Linked DNA regions of Homo sapiens: region 2 is linked to region 1. Evidence: fine-mapped expression QTL. A gene starts in region 1. The other region holds a variant in brackets. All regions are shown on one strand. Distances are between the middles of the regions.

Region 1 (2,908 bases):
CAGCATTTTGGGAGACTGAGGAGGGCAGATCACTTGAGGCCAGAGTTTGAGATCAGGCTGGCCATCATGGTGAAACTCTGTCTCTACTAAAAATACAAAAATTGGCCTGGTGTGTTGGCGCATGCCTGTAATCCCAGCTACTTGGGAAGCTGAGCCACAATAATCAATTGAACCAGGAGGTGGATGTTGCAGTAAGCTGAGATCGACCCACTGCACTCTAGCCTGGGCAACAGAGGGACACTCACTCTCTCTCAAAAAAAAAAAAAAAAAAAAAAAAAAAAAATATATATATATATATATATATATATATATATATATATATTATATGGTAATAGTTGAATTTAGATGATCCTGCATTAGGAAATAAAATGAAACATATAACGGTTATTACTGGAATAACTGACAAAATTTAAAGATGGAATTTGTATACTAGTATTGAATCACGATTAAATTTCCTTAATTTCATAATCGGGCTGTGCTTACATAAGAGGTAGTCCTTGATCTTAGTAGATACATACCTAAGTATTTAGGGAGATGTGTGATTGGTTTTCAAATGGTTTTGCAAAATAATATGTAAATACATAGGTAAAGATAAACTTGGCAAAATAGTAACACTAAGTGAATCTAGGTGAAGAGTATATGCGCATTCATTATATTATTCTTGCAACATTTGTTTTAAATTTTTAATAGTTTAAAAATAGGCCGGGAGCAGTGGCTCAGGCCTGTAATCCCAGCATTTCGGGAGGCCAAGGTGGGCGGGTCACTGGCAGTCAGGAGTTTGAGACCAGCCTAGGCAACATGAGGAAACCCCATCTCTAGTGAAAATACAAAAATTAGACGGGTGTGATGGTACCTGCCTGTAATCCCAGCTCCTCAGGAGGCTGAGGCACGAGAATCGCTTGAGCCTGGGAGAGGGAGGATGCAGGGAGCTGAGATCGTGCCACTGCACTCCAGCCTGGGCGACAGAGCAAGACTACTCCAAAAATAAATAAATAAATAAATAAATAAATAAATAAATAAATAAATAAAAATAACTAAATTACTTGAAATTGTAATAAGCTAAGTAATAAGTAAAAACTGGAGAAAAGTCATAACAATAATTCGGGAACAAGATGATGTGACGGGCTAAACCTGGCAGTGAAGACACAGAAAAATGAATAAATTCAAGGTATGTTTTGGAGGTAGAACTGACAAGATTTGTTAACTGATAAGGTGTAGCAAATAAAGAAAAAGGGAGGAATAACTGCTGTAAACAAACCTGACCAAAAGGAACAAACTAGCTCCGCCCTTCCCGATTGCAGCCACGCGAAGGAAGTGAGGAAAAGAAAGCAAAGGCCTAGCTACGGGCAGGCTTCCGTTCTAGCGTCGCGAAGAGGCCGTAAAGCACAGAAACCCGTTTGTCCCCTCCCCTAATGGGCGGGCCTTGAGACTGCCCGGCCAATGGCAAGCGAGTAATCGACTGATAATCCAATAGCTCTGGAGTGGGTGGAGTCCTGAGGAATTGGGGTGGGCTGGACTTGGGCCTGGAGTTAGGCATTTCCGCCCACGTGGGAAGCTATGAGGTATAGACCCGGCTAGAATCTGAAGTGCGGGAGAGTGCTGGACCCTGAGTGATGGGGCCGGCGCCAGCTGGAGAGCAGCTTCGCGGAGCGACTGGAGAGCCAGAGGTGGGTTGAGCCATCGGGGAGGAACAGAGGCTCAATGTGCGCTCCCTTGGCTGCAGGGCCCGAGATGGCGTGATCTGACAGCTTGCGGGTGAAAGCCATGCCGGCGGCCCATTCTGGAGGATGTTTCCAGCCAGTGGCACTGAGACAGGGCTTGCTAGGGGTGATGGAACCTGGCAGTATTTGGTTAGAAGCAGTGAAGCCGGTAGAGCCTCTGCTCTCTTCTGGAGCTCTGCACCTCAAAGTTGAAGAGACCCACACTTGGGTCGTTTCTTTTATTTGGTGGTCCTTGACGATAAGCGGGATCTTCCTCCACAGAATTTGTGTCCAGTTCTGTGCTCCCCGCTGTAGCGGAGGGCATACGGTGCCTCTCCTGGAGCGCTCCAGTAAGGCTCTCTGGGATGAGAGGCATCGTGGAGCGGATGGGCCCACGGCTGTAGGGGAAAAGGTTTGGGATCCTGCACGCTTGCCTTTGAAGCCTGCTCATAGTACGGGTGTACCAGTTGTGGAACCTCGAGTGAATAGTGGGACTTCAAGTGTCTTCAAGAATTATTTTGAGGATTTAATGACTTGCTAAATGTGTCCTCTGGGGTCCAGTCGGTTCTAGCTCCTTCCATCAGTGAGTATTTAGTGTAAACTGAGGCAGTCAGGTCTTCCTAGAGGAGGTGGAACCTGGCAGGATTTGGTTGGAGCGAGAATGGGAAAGACATTTGAGAAGTCCCAGGCCTATATCAGCAGAAGAGGAAACTTCCTGAAAATACAAGGGGCCTGGGCATTACTTAGGGCAGGGCTCAGTCAGCTTCTTTTTTTTTTTTTTTTTTTTGACAGTCTTGCTCTGTTGCCCAGGCTAGAATGCAATGGCACGATCTCGGCTCACTTCAGCCTCTGCCTCCTGGGTTCAAGTGATTTTCCTGCCTCAGTCTCCCGCGTAGCTGAGATTACAGGCATGTGCCACCACACCTGGCTAATTTTTGTATTTTTAATAGAGACGGAGTTTCCCCATGTTGGCCAGGCTGATTTCGAACTCCTGACTTCAGCTGATCCGCCCAGCTCCACCTCCCAAACTGCTGGGATTACAGGCGTCAGCCACCGTGTCCAGCCTGGGCCCAGTCAGCTTCTATCACTACCAATTCCAAACAGAGCTCCATGCTTGTGGTGTCAGGTAGACAGGAGAGCTCTTAACTCAAGGAATTTTCGGCTCAGCGCTCAGTGATGTTCATCCAAGTAACGATTCTCCTGAGTTT
Region 2 (2,908 bases), 23 kb after region 1:
AGAGTTCACGGAGTCATGGTCCTGAAGGTTGGGCCCTGATGGAGGGGGTGGGGAACAAGGACATTGAGACCCAGCCCTTGTTCTGCTAGCTAAACCATGTGCCTTGGCATGCAGCTGCATTGACTGGAGGGGGTTGCAAAGATACTCTATGGTGAGCTGCAGTCCAGGATTATAGATAGACACATACATGCATGCATACATGGGTGAGTACAGGTAGCTGCATATGTATAAATAAATGCTGCTCAACGTATATAAGACAGACAAATCCATAATTGTGTGTGTAACTAGCTACTTCCTGGTGCAGCCCACGAGAAAACCCATGTGAGGTGAATGCAGACAGATGTGTGTGCAGGTTGCTTTTTTGTTTATTTGCTTTTTGAGACGGAGTCTGTCTCTGTCGCCCAGGCTGGAGTGCAGTGGTGCGATCTCTGCTCACTGCAACCTCAGCCTCCTGGGCTCAAGCGATTCTCTGGCCTCAGCCTCCCGAGTAGCTGGGATTACAGGTGCCTACCACCATGCCCGGCTAATTTTTTTTTGGCGAGGGGATAGAATTTCGCTCTTGTTGCCCAGGCTGGAGTGCAATGGCACGATCTCGACTCACTGCAAGCTCTGCCTCCCGAGTTCAAGCGATTCTCCTGCCTCAGCCTCCCAAGTAGCTGGGACTACAGGCGCACACCACCACACCTGGCTAATTTTTGTATTTTTAGTAGAGATGGGATTTATCCATGTTGGCCAGGCTGGTCTCGAACTCCTGACCTCAGGTGATCCATCTGCCTTGGCCTCCCAAAGTGCTGGGATTATAGGAGCAAGCCATCGTACCCGGCCTAATTTTTGTGTTTTTAGTGGAGACAGGGTTTTACCATGTTGGCCAGGCTGGTCTTGAACTCCTGAGCTAAAATGATCTGCCTGGCTTGGCCTCCCAAAATTCTGGGATTACAGGCATGAGCCACTGTGCCCGGCTCCAGGCCAGGTTCCTTTTTTTTTTTTTTTTTTTTTTTTTTGTGATGGAGTCTCGCTCTGTTGCCCAGGCAAGAGTGCAGTGGCGCCATCTTGGCTCACTGCAAGCTCTGCCTCCCAGGTTCATGCCATTCTCCTGCCTCAGCCTCCCGAGTAGCTGGGACTACAGGCGCCCACCACCACACCCAGCTAATTTTTTTTTATTTTATTTTTAGTAGAGATGGGGTTTCACCTTATTGGCCAGGATGGTCTCGATCTGCTGACCTTGTGATCCGCCCACCTCAGCCTCCCAAAGAGCTGAGATTGTAGGCGCGAGCCACCATGCCCGGCCTCCAGGTTGCTTTTATAAGGGAAGAGGAAAAGAAATAAAAAATAGAAGTGTGTGTAGTGTCTGCTGGTGAAAGAGCTTCCCCTGTTTTTCTCCCCTGCTCTGGTTCCCAGGCTAGATTTGGATGCCAGCAGACCCAGGATGGGACAGGGTGACAATGGGGTGTTGTGGGCTGGG[T/G]TTCCCTATTTTCTTTCGGTGTTGAGGAGTCCCTTGCCAGTTTCTGCCCTGTGCTGCCTTTGCAGCTCCACTTGAGGCAGGGATGGGCTGGATGCATATTATAGGGTGGGAGGAAAAGGGGGCAGCATGGCAGGGGTGCTCTACCACTCCCATAGCCTGTGATCTGGGCCCTGGCACCAGGAGTCTATGGTTCTGTCTTGAGTCACAGGCTGGCAGTGGGGCCAGAGGGCAGGTACTCAGTGATGGCTCCCTGATTCACCACGGGGCCTCCCAGCCTATAGAGGCCTGGAGGGTAGGGTGCATCTTTCTGGGTCAAGGGTCATTAGAGTCCTCATGTGGGGGTTCTATATATGTGTGAGCCCATGGCGAGGCTCTCATGTGAATGGGATCCCTGATCATGGGAGCAGAGCTCAGTGTCTATAGGCAAGTGTGTGACTGCAAACCACAGGGTGTGTGTGTGTGTCTGTGTGTTTGTGTGTGTGTATGCGCAAGCACCTGCATGTATGTGAATCTACTTCATGTGTATGCTAAACCCATCTCTTTGGGCATGAACCACCTCTGGGACTGGGAGCCCTTATTTCCTTTCTTTTCTTTTCTTTTTTAACATGCCTATCTAGGCCAGGTACGGTGAATCATGCCTGTAATCCCAGCACTTTGGGAGGCCGAGACGGGTGGATCACCTGAGGTCAGGAGTTCGAGACCAGCCTGGCCAACGTGGTGAAACCCCGTCTCTACTAAAAAAAACAAAAAACAAAAAACAAAAAAATTGGCTGGACATGGTGGTGCATGCCTGTAATCCCAGCTACTCGGGAAGCTGAAGCAGGAGAATCGCTTGAACCCAGGTGGGGTGATCTTGGCTCACTGCAACCTCTGCCTCCTGGGTTCAAGTGATCCTCCTGTCTCAGCCTCCCGAGTAGCTGGGATTACAGGCATGTGGCAGAGGTGGTTGATGCCCAAAGAGATGGGTTTAGCAATACTCATAATCCTACAATCCAAGCACTCTAGGAGGCCAAGGTGGGCAAATTGCTTGAGCTCGGGAGTTCCAGACCAGCCTGGCCAACATGGCGAAACCCCTTCTCTACAAACAATACAAAAATTAGCCGGGCATCGTGATGCATGCCTGTAGTCCCAGCTATTTGAGAGGCTGAGGTGGGAGGATTGTTTGATCCCATGAGCTAGAGGCTGGAGTGAGTCATCATCCATGTTTTTAAGAGCTTGTTTAGCTTCTTCTGCTACCTCTCCTGACACAACCTGTCCACTTGAAGGGTCCATGCCTATCTGTCCTGAAATGTCAATGGTCCTGTCACCTAACATAGTTTGACTGTAGGTCCCAGTGGCCCCTGGGGCTTTCTTGGTGCTGATCACATTTCTGATCAAGGACGACAGGACTAACCCTTCTCTCTTTTGGTCCCTCTGGGAGAAGAACCTCTGCACTAGCCCTGCTCG

The links. PIP is the estimated chance that this variant, and not a neighbour inherited with it, causes the effect.
Region 2: its variant is the best candidate, but not a certain one, in a credible set for the expression of NOL6 in adrenal gland (GTEx, PIP 0.66).

What each region holds. Positions count from the first base shown.
Region 1 is chr9:33,472,548-33,475,455 of GRCh38, reverse strand. It overlaps NOL6 (nucleolar protein 6), which reads left to right and starts at 1,532. Exons shown (of 26, transcript NM_022917.5): 1 at 1,532-1,667. The coding sequence starts at 1,614. LOC107987061 (a long non-coding RNA gene) reads right to left here and starts at 1,316. Exons shown (of 3, transcript XR_001746648.3): 1 at 1,259-1,316. RefSeq lists an enhancer at 1,581-1,920.
Region 2 is chr9:33,449,693-33,452,600 of GRCh38, reverse strand. No RefSeq gene overlaps it. Among named protein-coding and RNA genes, the nearest start is that of AQP3, 3.6 kb to the right of the region's middle. The variant T/G (reference allele first, on the strand shown) is at 1,463.